3 separate regions of the Homo sapiens genome follow, and all the other regions are linked to region 3. The links come from fine-mapping of genetic effects on gene expression. A gene starts in region 3. Each other region holds a variant in brackets. All regions are shown on one strand. Distances are from middle to middle.

What was found.
Region 1: its variant is fine-mapped to the expression of APC in sigmoid colon (GTEx, PIP 0.98).
Region 2: its variant is fine-mapped to the expression of APC in whole blood (TOPMed, PIP above 0.99). The same link has a PIP of 0.9 or more in T cells, blood mononuclear cells, monocytes after LPS, monocytes after Pam3CSK4 and monocytes after R848.

What each region holds. Positions count from the first base shown.
Region 1 is chr5:112,529,546-112,536,554 of GRCh38, forward strand. LOC124901043 (a long non-coding RNA gene) reads left to right here. Exons shown (of 2, transcript XR_007058901.1): 2 at 1-867. Among named protein-coding and RNA genes, the nearest start is that of LINC02200, 95 kb to the right of the region's middle. The variant A/C (reference allele first, on the strand shown) is at 3,379.
Region 2 is chr5:112,703,064-112,709,733 of GRCh38, forward strand. It overlaps a transcript of APC not described here. Among named protein-coding and RNA genes, the nearest start is that of APC, 31 kb to the right of the region's middle. RefSeq lists a silencer at 1,089-1,383 and enhancers at 1,089-1,383, 4,415-4,474. The variant C/G (reference allele first, on the strand shown) is at 4,522.
Region 3 is chr5:112,734,857-112,739,856 of GRCh38, forward strand. It overlaps APC (APC regulator of Wnt signaling pathway), which reads left to right and starts at 3,029. Exons shown (of 16, transcript NM_000038.6): 1 at 3,029-3,069.

The DNA.
Region 1 (7,009 bases), 200 kb before region 3:
TAGGGAAAGTATGTCAGGAAATAGGATTAAAGCAGATACAGTCTCTTCCTATGATATTGTTTAAAATTAGATGCACTCCTTCTAAGAAAACAGGACACTCCCCTTAGGAAATACCGTATCATAGGCCTCCTCCCATACTACTGGGGCTTTCAGGCACTCCCCAAGTGTCAGGTGAAATTGAATTACAGCGACAGCTACAGGCTTTAGGAAAAATTACACAAACAATCTCAACTTGGGTAAATGAGAGGTATCCCATCAGCTTACTCTCCCCAGTTCACCCGTTCTCTCCAGGTGATCGCATGTGGATCAAGGACTGGAACATAGCCCCTTTGTGGCCATGGTGGAAAGGACCTCAGACCATCATCCTGACCACCCCCAAGGCTGTAAAGGTAGAAGGAATCCCATCCTGGGTCCACCACAGCCATGTGAATCCTGCAGCCGCTGAAACCTGGGAGGCAAAACAGAGCCTGGACAACCCCTGCAAAGTGACTCTGAGGAGGATGACAAGCCCTGCTCCAGTCACACCTGGAAGCTGACTGGTCTACGCACAGCCAAAACATGAGGAGGATCATTGTGGGACTCACTTTCCTTATAATTTGGACTTGTATAGTAAAAACTTCCACTGATTTTCCTCACATGTAGGACTGCTCTCAGTGTATACATCAGGTTACCGAGGTAGCACAACAAGTTACAACAATCTTTCTGTTCTATAGTTACTATGAATGCCCAGGAAATTTAAAAGGAATATGTTTATATAACGACACTCAGTATAAGGTATGTAGCCCAGGAAATGACTGGCCAGATGTGTGTTATGACCCCTTTGAGCCTCCCATGTCCACAGTTTTTGAAATAAAATTAAGGACTGAAGACTGGTGGGGACTCATAAATGATACAAGTAAAGTATTAGCCAGAACAGAAGAAAAAGGGGTGCCCAGATGCACAATCTTGAAATTTGATACCTGTGGTGTCATTAATAGCAATAAGTTAGGAAGGGGATATAGCTCTTTTAGTTGGGAAAAAGGCTATGTGACCAAAAATAAGTACATTTGTCATGAATTAGGACTGTGTGGAAATGAATGTGGATACTGGTCTTGTGTCATTTGGGCCACTTGGATAAAAAATGAAAAGGATCCAGTCCACCTTCAGAAAGGAAAAAATGGCCCTTCCTGTACTAAGGGACAAGGTAACACCTTAGAGCTAGTAATAACCAATCCCCTTGATCCACGCTGGAGAAAAGGGGAGCATGTGACCTTAGGAATCAATGGGGCCAGACTGGATCCTCGAGTAAATTTCTTAGTTTGAGGAGAAGTTTACAAACACTCTCCTGAGCCAGTGTTTCAAACTTTCTATGATGAACTAAATGTGCCAGTACCAGAAATTCCAGGAAAAACAAGAAATTTGTTTTTGCAATTAGCCAAGCATGTAGCCCAGTCTCTCAATGTCACTTCATGTTATGTCTGTGGAGGAACTGCAGTGGGAGATCAATGGCCATGGGAAGCCTGAAAATTAGTACATACAGACCCAGCTCCTGATGAATTCCTGGCTCAAAAGAATCACTCTAATAATTTCTGAGTCCTAAAAGCCTCAATTATTGGACAATATTGCATAGCTAGAGAAGGAAAAGAATTCACTTACCCCGTAGAATGACTTAGTTGTCTGGAACAGAAACTGTATAATGGCACCACAAAGACAGTCACTTGGTGGAGTTCAAATCACACAGAGAGGAATCCACTTAGTAAATTCCCAAAGTTGCAAACCGTGTGGACCCACCCGGAGTCCCACCGGGACTGGACAGCCCCCACTGGATTATACTGGATATGTGGGCATAGAGCTTATGCCAAATTATCCGAACAGTGGGCGGGTAGTTGTGTTATTGTCACTATTAAACCATCTTTCTTTCTACTGCCCATAAAGACAGGTGAACTCCTGGGCTTCCCTGTCTATGCTTCCAGTGAAAAGAGAAGCAAAGCTATAGGAAATTGGAAAGATGATGAATGGTCCCCTGAGGGAATCATACAATATTATGGGCCTGCTACTTGGGCACAAGACAGCTCATGGGGACGCCGGACCCCCATTTACATGATGAACCAAATCATACGGTTACAAGCTGTCTTAGAAATAACCACTGATACAACCAGCAGAGCCTTGACTATTCTGGCCTGGCAAGAAACTCAGATGAGAAATGCTATCTATCAAAGTAGATTGGCTCTCGACTACTTGCTAGCAGTTGAAGGAGGGGTCTGTGGGAAATTTAACCTTACTAATTGCTGTCTACACATAGATGATCAAGGGCGAGTGGTTGAAGACATAGTTAGAGATATGACAAAACTGGCACACGTGTCCATGCAAGTGTGGCATGGATTTGATCCTGAAGCCATGTTTGGAAAATGGCTCCCAGTGCTAGGAGGATTTAAAACTCTTATAATAGGAGTTATAATAGTAATAAAAACCTGCTTACTGCTCCCTTGTTTGCTACCTGTACTTCTTCAAATGATAAAAAAGCTTCATCGCTACCTTAGCTCTCCAAAATACTCCAGCACAAGTGTACTATATGAATCACCATCGATCTGTCTTGCAAGAAGACATGGGTAGTGAGGATGAAAGTGAGAACTCCCACTATTGAGTGAGATTCTCAAATGGGGGGAATAAGGGAGGAGACCACCCCTTATATTGTCTTATGCCCAATTTCTGCCTCCAAAGAAAGAAGAAGTAAAAACTAAAAGGCAGAAATGAAATCTACAAACAGACAACCCGGTGCCACACCCTGGGCCTGGTAGTTAAAGATCGACCCCTGACCTAATCAGTTATTTGCATAAAAAAGGCACTGTGAAGATCCGTGTCCTGTTCAGTTTCTTTCTAATTACCGATGTATGCAGCCCCCAGTCATGTACCCCTGCTTGCTCAATTGATCACGACCCTCTCAAGCGGACACCCTTAGAGTTGTGAGCCCTTAAAAGGGACAGGAATTGCTCACTTGGGGAGCTCGGTTGTTGGAGACGTGAGTCTTGCTAAAGCTCTTGCCTAAATAAAGCCCTTCCTTCTTTAACTCAGTGTCTGAGGGGTTTTGACTGCAGCTTGTCCTGCTACAGTGTGGGTGTGTGTTTGGGAGAGGAAGGTCTCCCTTTCTCACTTCCACAGTTGGGGCACTCACAGTTTTGGGAGGGTCTCCTGGATCCTCTAGGAGCAGTCCACTTCCTTCGGAGGGTCTGTGGGTCTTCTTGGGATTGCTGGTTTGTTCTTGCAGTCTATCTGGAGCTAAAATTCACAATGTGAGCTGCCCTCCACTGCTTTGTCCAGAGCTGCAATCTAGTCCTGCCCCCATCCTGTCGGCCATGATCTCACACTACTTAAGATTTTAAATTAGAACTTCTGACATCA[A/C]AACACAAAAGAGACAACATTTCAAACTTGATCCACTGAAAACAGGGTAAGTTTAATTCTAAATCCAAATCCAACATTCTAAAACAAGATGTTATCCAAAAATGAAAATTAGTTGCATGACCATTTTTAAAATAACTTTACATATTGAAATAGCTTAAGATTCAGAAGAAGTGACAAAAATAGTACAGAGGTTTTCACACACCCTTCACCCACATTCACCCAACATTAATATCTTGCATAACCATGATGCATGTCAAAACCAGAGTTGCACAGCTCTTAAATCCGTCATCCACGTTGAGCATATAAAAGCATCTGGCTACTGGAAATGAAAATAAGGGATTTTTGAAGAGTGATATGTCTTCTGAAAGCTCTGCATGTGCTGTGGGTTCCTCTACCACCTCATTCGCAAAAGAATAGGATGTGAATTGCTTGTTTTTTCATCTCAACTTAGAAGAAGAAGCATCAAAGGGAATTCTCAGAGAGCTTAATGTGTATTTCCTGAAGTCTGGGGGTGGGGACACACTGCACTTGAGTGTGACTCCCCTCTGAGCACTCAAGGGTGAGAGACAGGCTGGACAGCAGCTGACTGGTAAGCCAAGGGAAAGATGGCTGGGTTGACATAGGCCTGCATACACAGAATTTGTCAGAGCAAGAGATGCATGGATTTTACATAACAGAAATGTGAACCACACACAAGAAAGCTGGCATGAGGTCATCTTATATCCTGTCCAATAGGGCTACCTAGGAGGGCAAAGTCCTCAGTAGAGAGAAGCTGATGGCATAGTCTGACTCATAGGGATTGGAGAGGGAATAAGCAACACACCGAATGAGAGGGCACCATTCACATGAACAGAGTTGCAGAGAGATCCTTGAAGATGGTGTGGAAGTGGAGAGAGGACAAGGAGTGAAATCTCCAAAGAATACATGATGGCATCTATGAAATCATTACCTTTAAACTCACGCCAGTGCCAGAGAATATTTGAAAATTGTTGTGGGTTTTTTTTAAAAAAAAAAAAAAAAAACAATCTCAAACTTACAGAAGCATGCATGTACAATACTAAAAACTTTTTCCAGAATTATTTGAAAGCAAGTTGCCAATATCATGCCTCACTGTGTGGAGTGACATCTTCCTCACCCTGTCCATGCTCTGATACCCTCCACAAGACCACCCTCCTCCTTGGGTTCCAACTCTGCACCAGGCTGCCACCCCATGTGTGACAAGGCATGAACTTTCTTCACCTTGCACAGGCTCTGGCTTCCTTAGGCAGCCCATACTCCCATGCAAATACCCACCTCAACTCATTTGACTCCAGTGTCTGGCCCTGGACAGCCTTCTTGGTGCAGATGCCCTCCTCAGCCTGCTTGGGGTCTGACATGCCACACCAATGCACCCCTCTGAGGCAAGGCCCTCCTCACCCAACTTGGGCTCTGACACCCCATTCTGGGCACCATAGCCAACTGTAATAGTTAATATTGAATGGACTGAAGGAGGCAAAGTGTTGTTTCTGGGTGTGTCTGTGAGGGTGCTGCCAAAGGAGATTAACATTTGAGTCAGTGGACTGGGAGAGGCAGACCCACCCTCAATCTGGGTGGGCATCAGCTAATCAGCTCAGGACCGAATTGTTCAGAATGGGAAAAGACAAGAACTTGGGAAAAGAGCTGCAAAGCCACCTTGTAGTAGCAGCAGTCAAGTAAAACCTCTCATGGTTATTTTAATTCTTCTCTTTCTTTGCTTTCAGATCTGGAAGGTTAAGAAAGCACAATTATCAGGCTGGGGGAGGAAGGGCATAGGAAGGGAAAAGGAACCAACTACACCCCTCCTCCAGTTGAAGGCTTCCTGGTAGGGGAGGGAAGATTTATATTTGAATCAGGTTCAGAGTTTTGCCTTATATGGGATGAGAAATTTTGACTTCCGAATTGAGACTGTGCTTGGTGACTAAGAGTGGCAATCGTTTTATTAGTTAAGTGTGTTAAGGAAAGCCATAGGACTGCTGATGTTTTTTATCCAAGAGCCAAGGGAAAACTTTCCCCATTGAATAAATATAAAAGGAAAGTGAGGGACAAATTATACCACCTTATCATTCCGCTCCATGAGGCCTGCTTGCTCCGTGCCTTCATTACATACATTTGCAGTGGCTGCCAATCTAGAACAAACAGGGGTTTTCTATAATTTCCAAGAGGCCCCAACTGTCTGAAAATCTACAGAGGAAACAAAAGTCCTTATGGTAACCCTTTTTTGGTTGTTCATTTCTTTAAAGATTGACAGGGTTTTGTTTGTTTTGTTTTTTGTTTTGTTTTGTTTTGTTTATCATTCTGTAATTAGGGAGAGTGTTCCAACAACAAAAATATATTATTTCTAGGTAACTGAGGTATAACTAAGAAGACCTCAAGGGCAAAATTCTGCTTTCTCTTTAAATCTCTCGCAAGCACATCTCTAATTTTATTTCTGCCTTTGTTGCTGTCTCATCTTAACTTCATCTTAGTAAAATTGTCATCAAAATCTTCTTGGGAGAGAAGAAGACTCACAGTCCGTGCCCATGGTGGTTTTTATCTGCCTGAACACAAGCCAAACATCTTGGGGCCAGTATCCTCAGAGGTCTTCCTTTATCACTGAGCTCTCCCTTGTACTCACCTCAGCCTCACTGCTGGGTGGGTCTATCTCCTGCCATCTATGCACCACCCAGGTCCTCCACTCTGCTGAAACTTCTTTTGAGCTATTAGGTTTGGATCATTCCTGGGACTTTTGTAATCTCTCACATTTTAGACGTGGTCCACTGAAAATAGAGTAAGTTTAATTCCAAATCCAACACCTTCATCTCTTTTGAGGGAGGCAAAAATTGATCACCTCTTTCCTACGGTAATGTTGTTGATCTTGTTTTTAGTTTATCTCTGTAATTCCCACTTTGTCTAGCACAGTGCTTTGAACATAATCAGAACTCAGTAAATATCTACTGAATGGATGAATTCATTCCATGAAGAAAGAACATGAAAGGATGATTAATGGAGGCAATTAGCCAGATAATTAAAAAGTATTTTTCCTCTACTATTCAGACATTTCAACAAGAGGATTTTTTGTTAACTACACAGATAATTACTTTAATATACCACATCACTCTTTATACATGTGTGGGACCCAATATTTGTATACACGTATGGCCTGACAAAAAATAGGTAACAGTTGTTGGATAAAGAATTATATTTGCAGAAATAGAATGGAAAAGATACTGTTAACAGTATTATTTCTGGGAAAAGAGGAAAGGGAATTGTTGGATCAACAAGGTCACTGGTCTTGTAGTTTTTACTGTATACACTTCTATATTTATACAGTGTTTTAATTTTTGTGAGCACGTATTTTCAATATTAATTTCTTAAAATTGTATTAACTAAGCAGAAAACTAAGCAGAGATATTGCGGACCTGAACTTTTGAGCTTTTAGCTTCATGGGTTCGTATTACGGGATACAATGCCCATGGGGTAGCAAATGCCTCCAGGGAACAGGCAAGTAAAATACATAAGCAAAGTGGACTGCAATATGGACTGCAGCAAGTGGGGGCAAGGCAAGCCCTGTGCACAGTGGCCAGGTGCTGCCAAGTCCAGCCAATTACTGTTACACAGAAACATGGGACCAATG
Region 2 (6,670 bases), 31 kb before region 3:
ATGAAGCAGAAATTCCCTCTCACTATCGAAATTAGAAGTTCATATGCTCATTTTCCTGGCCTTCCTATCAATTACCGCTGTGCTGTCAAACATGGTAGCCACTGGCCACACGTGGCTACTGAGCACTTGACGTATGTCTAGTGGCACATGTTGAAATATTTTGGATATATTGGGTTAAATAAAATATATTATTAAAATTGGTTTCACCTGGTTTTTGTTTTGCTTTAGAGTCAGGGTCTCCCCCCCGTCACCCAGGCTGGAGTGCAGTGTCACAATCATAGCTCACCGCAGCCTGGAACTCCTGGGCTCAAGTGATCCTCCGGCTTCAGGTTCCTGAGTAACTAGGACTACAGGCATGCACCACCATGCCCAGCTAATATTTTTTTGTAGAGACAATGTCTTACTATATTACCCAGGCTGGTCTCAAATTCCTGGTCTAAAGCAATCTTCCCATCTCAGCCTCCCAAACTGCTTGGATTAGAGGCTGGTTTTTTGTTTTTGTTTTTGTTTTTAAACTGTCTTATGTGGCTACTAGAAAATTTAAAATTATGTATGTGGCTTGCATTATATTTCTATCAGACAGCATGTAGGTAGAGTGTTAATGTGTTACTAGGTTATATCCATGATTTGCCCCCATTCTAGGCTTGAGGTTGAAAGCTAATGTTGTGAATATGAAGTGACCCTCCATTCTGTTGAGAGTAGTGGCAGTGATAGTAACTGCATCTATCTTCCAGAAGCAGCAGAGGCATCATCCACTCTGGGTCAAGTGGTACTGGCAGTCTCAGTTTTGGTATTTGCATCCAGCAGTGGCTACAGTGATGGCTTCTTGGGACCAGTTCCGGGCATAATGTTGCGTGTTGTTCCTGAAGATCCTGTAGATGTCAAATATCCTTCTAATAAATTCCTTTTCTGCTAAGGCCCTTCATGAAGTCTCCCTCTCCACCCCAGTCCACAGGATCCTTCCCTTTTTCAGCATCAATAGTGAATAAGATCCAAACCACGCACTTGGCACTTTGCCCATACTATTTATCTTATCATAGGAAAGTGTCTAGTTTTCTCAGCCAGACTGTAAAATTCCCTGTGGCAGGAACCCTGTCTTTACATAATTGTTTCTTAGTATCTGTCAGACCTTGGTCACAGCATCACTGGAGGAATACTTGTTAGTTACCACTGCAGATCTTTGAAGTAGGCAGGGTGGCTGTCATTATCTCTGTTTGTACAGATGAGGAAACTGTTGTTCAGCGACTGGCTTGAGGTTGTGCAGCTGGCTTGCTCATACTGGAGCGGTAGCTCAAGCCTTCTCACTGCCTGCCAACATCTCTTTCCTCTATTTCAGGCCCTGCCAGATAAAATGGTGTATTAATTTCATAGAGCTGTTATAACAAAGTACCACAGATTGGGTGGCTTAAAACAACAGACATTTATTGACTCAGAGTTCTGAAAGTTATAAATCCAAAGTCAAGGTGTCCACAGGGCCATGTTCCCTCTGAAACCTGTAGGAAAGTCCATGCATGCCTCTTCCTAGCTTCTGATGGTTTGTTGGCAGTCTTTGGCATTCCTTGGCTTGTAGCTGCATAACTCCAATCTGCCTTTGTCCTCATCTGGCATCCTCACGTTCTGTCTATGTCTTCACACGGTCATCTTCTTAAAGGGACAGTAGTCATGGTGGGTTATCCTACCCTATTGCAGTATGACCTCATTTTATCTTAATTATATCTGCAATAATTTTATTTCAAAATAAGGGTACATTGTTTGGTACTGAAAGTCAGAACTTCAACATACCTTTTTTCGGAGTAGTACAATTCAGTCTCTAACAGATGGTAACCATAAGAGAAGTAAATACCATAGAAACTGAAGACTTTGTCTTGTTTCTAGGATTTATTCCAAGGATTACATTGTAGTGAGGTAGAAGGCGGGGAAGTGTTTTCAAGTATATATTCCTACCTACTACTTGATTTGCATATGGACTGATAGGGCTTGGTTGAAGAGCATATGTTATGGGTTCAGTGAATCTCTTCTCTCATATAAGGACTAAATGGCCCCCACAGATAAGATGCCAGCCCCATCCTTTCTGGCAGGTCTCCCCAGCCATCCTGAGGCAGCTATCCCATTTAGAGGGGAAATGATGGTGTGTAATTCTGATAAGTCAATGGAAGAAGAGGTTGTTGCAGTGAGCCTATAACTCTTTTCCAGAAGGGTCTTTGGGGGTCTAAGGTATCAGCTGGGTCCTAGATGGGCCAGCAAGTCCCATCTAGGCACATTGAGAAGCCTAACCAATAGATGCAGCTAGCCTTTAGACTATGTATCCATTTTGCTGGTATTTCTTCTTTTCCTTTAATGAAAATATATATGTTATTAATAAAAATAAATACAGAATTTAAAAAACATTAAAAGGAAAATGCTAAAATGAGTTCTGCTCTAGTTCAAAAGAAAAGAACGACAGTAGTTTCCAGGCAGGCCCTTTGAGGTCCTACACAGGGATAGTAATACGACTGGGACCCTTAAGTGGGGGTAACTGAATGAAATCTCTAATGAAAGCCTGCTAATGACACAGAATCAAATCTCTGAGTAAGCCTGTCTCCAAATCCAATTTCTCTAGATGGGAAGGGCATGGGCTTTATGGTCAGCACTATCCCTTAATGTGAGACCTTGGGCAAGGGACTTAATCTCTCTGAATTTGCCCATGTATAAAAGTGAGGATAATTATCTAGCAGGGCTGTGGTGAGGATTTCATATCTAACATAGTTCACAGCACATATAATAGGGATTGCATTAACTTGAAGCCTTCCTTCTCTCCATACTACAACATATGTAATATAAACCCTGCCCACTGTCCCACAATCACCCACCCTTCTCCATCCCATCTGCTCTCTCTCCAACCTTCCTACTTATATTCTAGCTGAGGAGACATATAAATAAGAAGTGACTTGCATTTCATTTTAAAAACCAAGTGAAACCAATATAGTACACCACCAACTACTTAGATGCTGACAAACTTCCACACTTATTAAATCAACAAACACTGAGTGACAGAGCACTCATGCCAGGTATGGTGCTATGCACTGTGTATTCATTGGTAAACAAAACGTATTCCCTGTCTTATGGAGTCGACTGTTTAGTGTGGAGGCAGTGAAGAAACAAAACATAGATCATTTAAAAACATATTGAGTACCATGGAAGAAATGATAAGGTGCAATGATTGAGAATAATAAGGAAGACAGGGGAAAATTTATTATTCTTAGGAAGGACGGTCTTTCTGAGGTGATATTTAAACTGAAACTTGAAAGATAAGAAGTTAGACATTTAAAGAACAAGAAGAAGTGTCTTCTAGGTAGTCAAGGGGGCATATACAAACCAGAAAGGCAGTCGGGAGCTAGAAGTGTTTGAAGAGGAGTAGTGGGGGCTAGGGGAGACAGCGTCAACAACATACAAGGGCCATTTTGAATAAAATCCAACTTCTTACCATGACCTGGAGGCCCTACCTGATTTGGCCTCTGCCTACCCCGACCACATCTCCTTCCCACTGTCCATGTCACCTATTCTTTCTGTCCCTCTTTCATGTCAGACTTGCTACCACCTCAGGATCTGTTCTGTTGTTCCCTCTGTCTGAAAGCTTTTGCCCCAGATCTTCCAGTGGCTCCTGGGCCCCCATGGTCAGTCAGGCTTCAGATTAAATGTCAACTCTGGAGAAAGATCACTAATCACCACCTCTCACTGTCCATCATCTTTCTGTGTGGTTTGCTCTCTTCCTATCCCTTATCACCATCAAACATTCTTTTGTTGACTGTCTTTTATTGTCTATTCTTTCACACTAGAATGTAAGTTCCGTGAGTTTATTGTATTTCCTATTGCTGTAAATCTAGAGCCTGAAACAGTATCTAGTATATATCGGAAACCCAAATGATATTGTTCAATTAATGTTGAATGAAATGAAACTGAAGAGGTAATCCAAGGTAAAGAACTTATCAAACTGTGTGAGACAAACAAGGATTTCCCGGAAGAGGTGTTTTTAAATTAAAACTACAGGGTGGTAGTGAGAGGTGGTAGGGAAGCAGAGGTCGCAGCTACAAAATAATAACTTGCTCATCTCCGTTTCTCCGCTATCTTATGAGCCCTTGTGGGGCTGGGACAGAATTTTATTCATCTTTCTATCATCAGCGTCTAGTACGGGGAGTAGCAAATAGTGAGCACTCGATAGATGTTTGCGGAATAATGGACTAGTGTGTGCAGAAGGATCTATTAACTGGGCTGCAGCACAATTCAGAGAAGGCCAGTAAGTGCTGCAACTGAGACTCGGCTGCCTAGGCAGCAATGGCTCACGGGACAGAACAGCGAAGCAGTGCCCGGCAAGCGGAGCGCAGCACCCATTGCGCCTGCGCATAACAGGCTCTAGTCTCCGGGCTGTGGGAAGCCAGCAACACCTCTCACGCATGCGCATTGTAGTCTTCCCACCTCCCACAAGATGGCGGAGGGCAAGTAGCAAGGGGGCGGGGTGTGGCCGCCGGAAGCCTAGCCGCTGCT[C/G]GGGGGGGACCTGCGGGCTCAGGCCCGGGAGCTGCGGACCGAGGTTGGCTCGATGCTGTTCCCAGGTACTGTTGTTGGCTGTTGGTGAGGAAGGTGAAGCACTCAGTTGCCTTCTCGGGCCTCGGCGCCCCCTATGTACGCCTCCCTGGGCTCGGGTCCGGTCGCCCCTTTGCCCGCTTCTGTACCACCCTCAGTTCTCGGGTCCTGGAGCACCGGCGGCAGCAGGAGCTGCGTCCGGCAGGAGACGAAGAGCCCGGGCGGCGCTCGTACTTCTGGCCACTGGGCGAGCGTCTGGCAGGTGAGTGAGGCTGCAGGCATTGACGTCTCCTCCCGGCAAAGCTTCCTCGGCTTTGCCCCGCCGCTGCTCGGGACCCTACGGTGCTCGGCCCGACTCTGTGGCTCTCTTCTCTCCATGTCTCACCCTCTCCCCTCCCCGCACTCCCCATTCAGGCCTCCAGTTGGCCCCTGGCTTTGCAGGTCCTCCATTCTCACGCAGTGGATGGGGGTCGCGACGCCCGCCGTCCTCCACCTTTCCTGGCTGCTGCTGGAGCTTCGCCCCTGCAAGTGGTGCCCCATTCGCGTTAGGTGGGTGGGTCGTCCGCCCTTCCCATTTTAGTCGCTTCCCCATCTTCCTCGTTTGGACCCTCTTGCTTCCTCTAAAAGTTTTAAACTCTCTGCCTGGGAAAATACCTGATAGCCCGGCATGTGGAGTTACAAAGAAAGGGCTGTTATCCAAAGGCCGGTGAATTTTGTTCACTTTGATGGGAGAATCAAGTCCCCAGGAGCCTTGGATGGTTAGGTCAGAGTCTGACTCCTTGACCCACCAAGTAGAGGAATGGTGCCTCTGTTGGCAAATGATTGTTCATCTAAATCATTCATTTTTTTCGGCTGTAGGAAATCTTTGGTCTCTGAACTGTTGAGGTGGGGGCGTGAGCTTTCTAGATCTAGTGAAAGAATTGGAAACTGTTATATTCGTTTTAAAAAAGAAGACCTTATGCAGTACATGTAAGACATCACTTAATGGTACAAGCAAGGATAAGTGATTTATTCTTTTATTCAGTGTTAGCTTAAATTGCCTACTGACGTCTTAGAATTCCATGTTGTACAAGCCCTTTGTTTCTATTTAGAAAGGACTAAAATGGAGAAAAGCTTTTTAAGTTCAAAACTTCTTAAATTGCTTGTATTCTCGATTGTTGTTACTGTTCAACCCTCCTTAGGAGTACTTGATATTTTCTATATGATTTAGTCTTGTGCCAGTCTCAGTACTCCCTCCTTTATTAGTGGAGCAAGGGTAGTCAGAATTACTGGTGTAAAAAACTGTCCTAAATAACGTAGTACCTTGCCAGAGTCTAAGTGCAAAATGTGGGATCAAAGCGGTAGTGGAGGAAGTTGCCATGGCTAATTTTTCCATCTTTCCCTGGATGGAAGGGTTGGATAACGTGTCAAGAGCCCCAAAATTGTAGAAGTGAGATTAAAAATATAAATGATAGCTTGCCCTTTGAAATTGCAAATGGGTGGACCTTTTTTATTAACATTAAATTGAGCAATATCGTTTTCTTGAAGTTATGCTAGATGTTCTCCAAAGTTGTTAAGCACAAACTATGCCTGCTGTATTAGAATTGTATGTTAAAAATTTTTAACGTGTGGGTTATAAATAGCCTGGCAGATTTGTTTACTTTTCATTCTGTCTCATAACACATAATCTATTTTTCCCTTTACTGTGGACTTTTGACCTTTTAATGCATTTTTAAAATTTAGAGATAGAATTGTTCAGCTTAAAAGAAGGAGGAATATTTTTATGTTTGCTTCTTGTATGGGCTAGTTCATTCGTTGCTAGCCTTCACTTTTCTGGAACCAGAGCCTGTGTGTTTTTAGAGCTGGTTGTCTCTGAATTCTCTGCATACAGTTTGAAGGGGCAGTAGCAAAGCAGGGGTTGCTGAGCCCCAATCAGTGGCTCACTGCTTCTGGCAAAATGATTTGTAGCTCTGTATCAAAAAACATCTGACCACAAACTCTTTAAAACCTCTCACTTTGGCAGGGTGTGGTGGCTCATGCCTGTAATTCCAGCACTTTGGGAGAGGCCAAAGCGCATGGATCGCATGAGTCCAGGAGTTCGAGACCAGCCTAGGCAACATGGCAAAGCCTCATC
Region 3 (5,000 bases):
CTCGGCTCACTGCAGCCCCCACCTCCCAGGTCCAAGAGATTCTCATGCCTCAGCCTCCCAAGTAGCTGGGGAATGTAATATTTAAGACATTAAGAATCCTATTAATCCTATTTAGTCATTTTTTTTTGTAGCTGCAGAAGGTTCAGAAGGGTTTTTTAAGTTGAATTATATGTTCATATTTACAACATTTACATATGAAACCATTTACTAAAAGCAATGAAGCTGGTTATAACAAACACTGATACTGAAAATAAGAGATATGTTTGTCAGTGCGGTCTTTAAACAGTGTTACACAATTTATTTCTGTTTCATTTTGATCAGAAAAAATATATATATCTTTTGAGACATGGTCTCTGTTGCACAGGCTGGAGTACAATGGCGAGATCTCGGCTCACTGCAACCTCTGCCTCCTGGGTTCAAGTGATCCTCCCACCTCAGCCTCTAGAGTAGCTAGGACCACAGGCGCGTGTCACCACAGCTGGCTAATTTTTTTGTATTCTTGGTAGAAATGAGGTTTCGCCATGTTGCCCATGCTGGTCTCCAACTCCTGAGCTCAAGTGAACTGGCCACCTCGGCCTCCCAAATTCCTGGGATTATAGGCATGAGCCACTGCACCCTGCCCAGAAAATATTTTTAATGCATACATATATATATATATATATGTATATGTAGTGTAAATAACATCTTCAATCAAATAGAGATGGCAGGAGCTTTATTCTGAGCTATGTGCAAACTTGATAAGACAAGGTAATGCTTCAGTAATTTTCCATGCTGAAATTTGGCCCAGTATACTTTGATTATATATCTATATTTAATTATAGTTTTAAAATAGCTAAGCAGTTTTAAAAATTCAAATTAAACTTTTGTGGAATCTCTAAAAATAAGAAAAATATTACTGAGTAATTGGCAACATAAAATACAAAATGTTTAACTTGGCTTTCTTTTAGATTTGAAGCATAGTGACTAATGAACATATAATGGTCGTAGCTTTCTTTACAACTATGTCATTTAAGTCACTGATGAATATCTATGATACATGCAGTAAAAATTTAGACAAACATTTTGGCTACAAACTGGTTTACTAAATAATAGCTTGTATCATAGTCTGAGTCAAGAGTAATAGGCTTACAATTGTGTCTTAGGGTACTAAGAAGTTCTTTTGAGGACCTTTTAAAAGGTATTCTTTGTTTTGAAAGACTGTTTTCCTTCTGGAAGTTCTAGGCCTTATGAGAAATTACCTATTCTGAATTTGTCACAAAAAATGACTTGTAAATAAGTCCTGTGCAGTGAATCATGTGCTTTCAGTAAGAGGATTTTGAAAGCCTTTTGTAAAATGAAGTCATTCTCAAAAGAGAGTTATTTAGAATATAATCAAATTGATTTACATGCTTTTATTTATTTCAAATATGAAGGGAAATTGTTTCTAAATATATTTAAACTTTTAATAGAACAGTAGTATGCCATCAGTGTGGAAATAACTCACTTGTTAAATAAATATTTGGGGTGTATTTGCTGTATATCAGGCATTGTAACACAGGGACTAATGAAAGAGAAAAAAAACAAAGCACGAAAGGACAGCAGAAATAGCTCCATAATCTCACTTTCCAGGAATAACCTCTATGGACATTTTGTTGTGTGTCTATTGCTTTTCTAATATATACATTTTTTAATCAAATGGAATTGCCTCAAATATGCTATTTAATAGCTTGCTTCTTTTCATACTATTTGAAAATTAAGAAACGATTATAATATGCTTCATTTAAAAACTTTAAGTTTAGGCCGGGCACAGTGGCTCACGCATGTAATCCCAGTACTTGGAGGGACCGAGGTGGGCGGATCACAAGGTCAGGAGATTGAGACCATCCTGGCCAGCATGGTGAAACCCCGTCTCTACTAAAAATACAAAACTTAGCTGGGCATGATGGCACGTGCCTGTAGTCCCAGCTACTTGGGAGGCTGAGGCAGGAGAATCGCTTGAACCCGGGAGGTGGAGGTTGCAGTGAGCGGAGATTGCACCACTGCACTCGCCTGGTGACAGAGCAAGACTCTATCTCAAAAAACAAACAAAGAAAACTTGAAGTATAGTATCCTTTTAAATTTTAAATAGATAATAGAAACTGGTTTCCCCCCATTTAAACCAGAATTTAAGTTTAACTTTATATATTCTTGACAGTTTGGATTTTGTCCTTCAACCTCATAAAATTGGGAATTTAAGCATCACCTGGTTCGATTTAAATGCAATGTAGAATTTGCATTAAAATACTACATTAAAGCCTCAGATTTGTAGTAGCTAACAGCACTTCTATGTATGTGTCAGGGACTGCTCTAAATACTTCATATATATTAACTCCTCTATTCTGTACTTCTGTTCCCGTTTTATACAGCAGGAAATTGAAACACTGAGAGGTTAAGTAACTAAAGTTACAGAGCTAGAGTGACAGGAGTAAAGCTTCAACTCAGGCAACCCAGACTTCCAGAGTTCTGATCTCCACTACTAAGCTGCTAGCATAGCTTTTCTGGTAACTATTTTTAATTCAAATATAATTCGAGTGATCTATCTAACAAGTCATCACTCTGACAACTCAGTGACTTGTAATGTAAAATTATTCATTGTAATTCATTTAATATTATTGTTTCTCTGTGCTGCAAAAATCATAGCAATCGAGATGTAATTTATTACTCTCCCTCCCACCTCCGGCATCTTGTGCTAATCCTTCTGCCCTGCGGACCTCCCCCGACTCTTTACTATGCGTGTCAACTGCCATCAACTTCCTTGCTTGCTGGGGACTGGGGCCGCGAGGGCATACCCCCGAGGGGTACGGGGCTAGGGCTAGGCAGGCTGTGCGGTTGGGCGGGGCCCTGTGCCCCACTGCGGAGTGCGGGTCGGGAAGCGGAGAGAGAAGCAGCTGTGTAATCCGCTGGATGCGGACCAGGGCGCTCCCCATTCCCGTCGGGAGCCCGCCGATTGGCTGGGTGTGGGCGCACGTGACCGACATGTGGCTGTATTGGTGCAGCCCGCCAGGGTGTCACTGGAGACAGAATGGAGGTGCTGCCGGACTCGGAAATGGGGTAGGTGCTGGAGCCACCATGGCCAGGCTTGCTGCGGGGGGAGGGGGGAAGGTGGTTTTCCCTCGCACTGTCTTAAACCGATGGCCTTTCCTTGGCACAGGGTCCACTGCAGCATGCCAAACGAGGAGGCAGGGGCGTCGTCCCCCCGCCCCCCACTGCAGCACTGGAGATGGATTTCCTGTACTTCGGATCCAGGGTTTTTGACAGAAGAGGAAGAAGGGGGAGGGGTAGAAGTGTTAAGGGGAGTCTGCTGAGAAAAGCTGTTTTTGAAGCCAGAAGGGGTTTTTGTTTTTATAATGCCATTTGACAGAGTGGAATAACAGTATCTAAGGAAACGGGTAGAGGACAACAAAGAATGGAGCATATTCATGGCGAGGAGCAAAAGCTCTACCCCATTGAAAGGCTTCTTTTCCTCCCTGGCGACAAGGACACATGCATTGGTGGCCAAAAGAGAGAGGAGACAAAACCGCTGCAGATGGCTGATGTGAATCTAGTGGAAAGAGCTACTGGGGATGAGAGAAAGAGGAGGAGGCAGGTACTGCAGAGCGTGAGTGGTGGTGTTGGTTGGTGAAATACTGGTCACCAGTAGTGTGCCTGCTTTTGTAAAACATCTAAGTAAACTCCCTGTGAACAGGGTGGCAAACAGATACCAGTGTCTTTGTTAGTTACAAAATGCAGTGGTAGTGGCTTTTTGCGGACGACTGCAGCAGTGCTTTTTCTCCCTCTGTTAGGCCGAAAAGACAACTGCAGAGGAATAAGAAACCTTGCAGCAAATGCTGGGGTAGAAGCCCATTTACAAGAAGCCATAGTTTATAAATGCAGCCTGAACAGCAGAAAAAAAATTACTGTTTTTTAAAGTAGGAATAATGTCAGGCTATGAATGTTTTGTCATTGGAATGTATTGGACACTTTGATTCTACATCACGAAAGTGATGCTCAAATTCTTTGATTTAACATAAATCCTATACGAAATCTTAATAAATTATGTATGAAACAGTGGATCTTTTCTTTTGTTAGTGAAGCTTTTATGCCATTAATTAGGTCATTCAAGAGCAAACCACTTTACAACGTAAATTACTTTGTCAAAAATTATGGTGAACAAATTTTTGTAGGCCTAATATTTAAGACCTATAGTTAAGTAATTTTATATTTCTCTTTGGTTGCTTTTAGATAACACTGAATAAATATTTAAGATATTAATTCAGTGTGCAAATATTTTAAATTAAAGCAACATGGCTTTTCTTCTAGATGTATTTCTGTTTAGTGAGTACTCATGAGATATACTCTTGATATAAAGTGTTTTTCATTGAGCTTTTTTTTCCTTTACCTAAATGTAAAAGCCTATCTTTATGCATACTTATAGTAGCCAGCCTGCCACACCTCCCCACTCCCTGAACAAGGATGGCAGTGGCTTTGTAAAGCCCTCCAGGGTCAGTGACAGTGTCTCTTAAATAATGTTTATGTAATAGAAAGTCTTAAGATGACCTATTATATTGTTTCAGTAATATTTTCAAGATAATGCGGAATTGGGCTGGCTTAGATAAATAAGACTACATAAGTTTTTCACTGATAAATTTAAATAGTTCTTTAAAAAATTATTTCTGCTTTAAGAATTACTTGATCATGGATATCAGGGTTAATAGTACTTAGGAGCCGGGCGTGGTGGCCCATGCCTGTAATACAAGCTAAACAGGAGGCTGAGGGAAGCTGAGGCAGGAGGATCACTTGAGCCTTGGCGTTCAAGACCAGCCTGGGCAACCAAGCAAGACCCTATCTCAAAAAAAAGTACTTAGAGTCTCTTTTTTAAAATCTGATGGAAACTATGGCTAGAACTAAAGATGTCACATTAAAATTCCAAATGACATTTAACAGCTAATATTACTCAGTTCTTTGAATTCCATTAGCATAGTGTTTGAGAGTCTATAAAACTA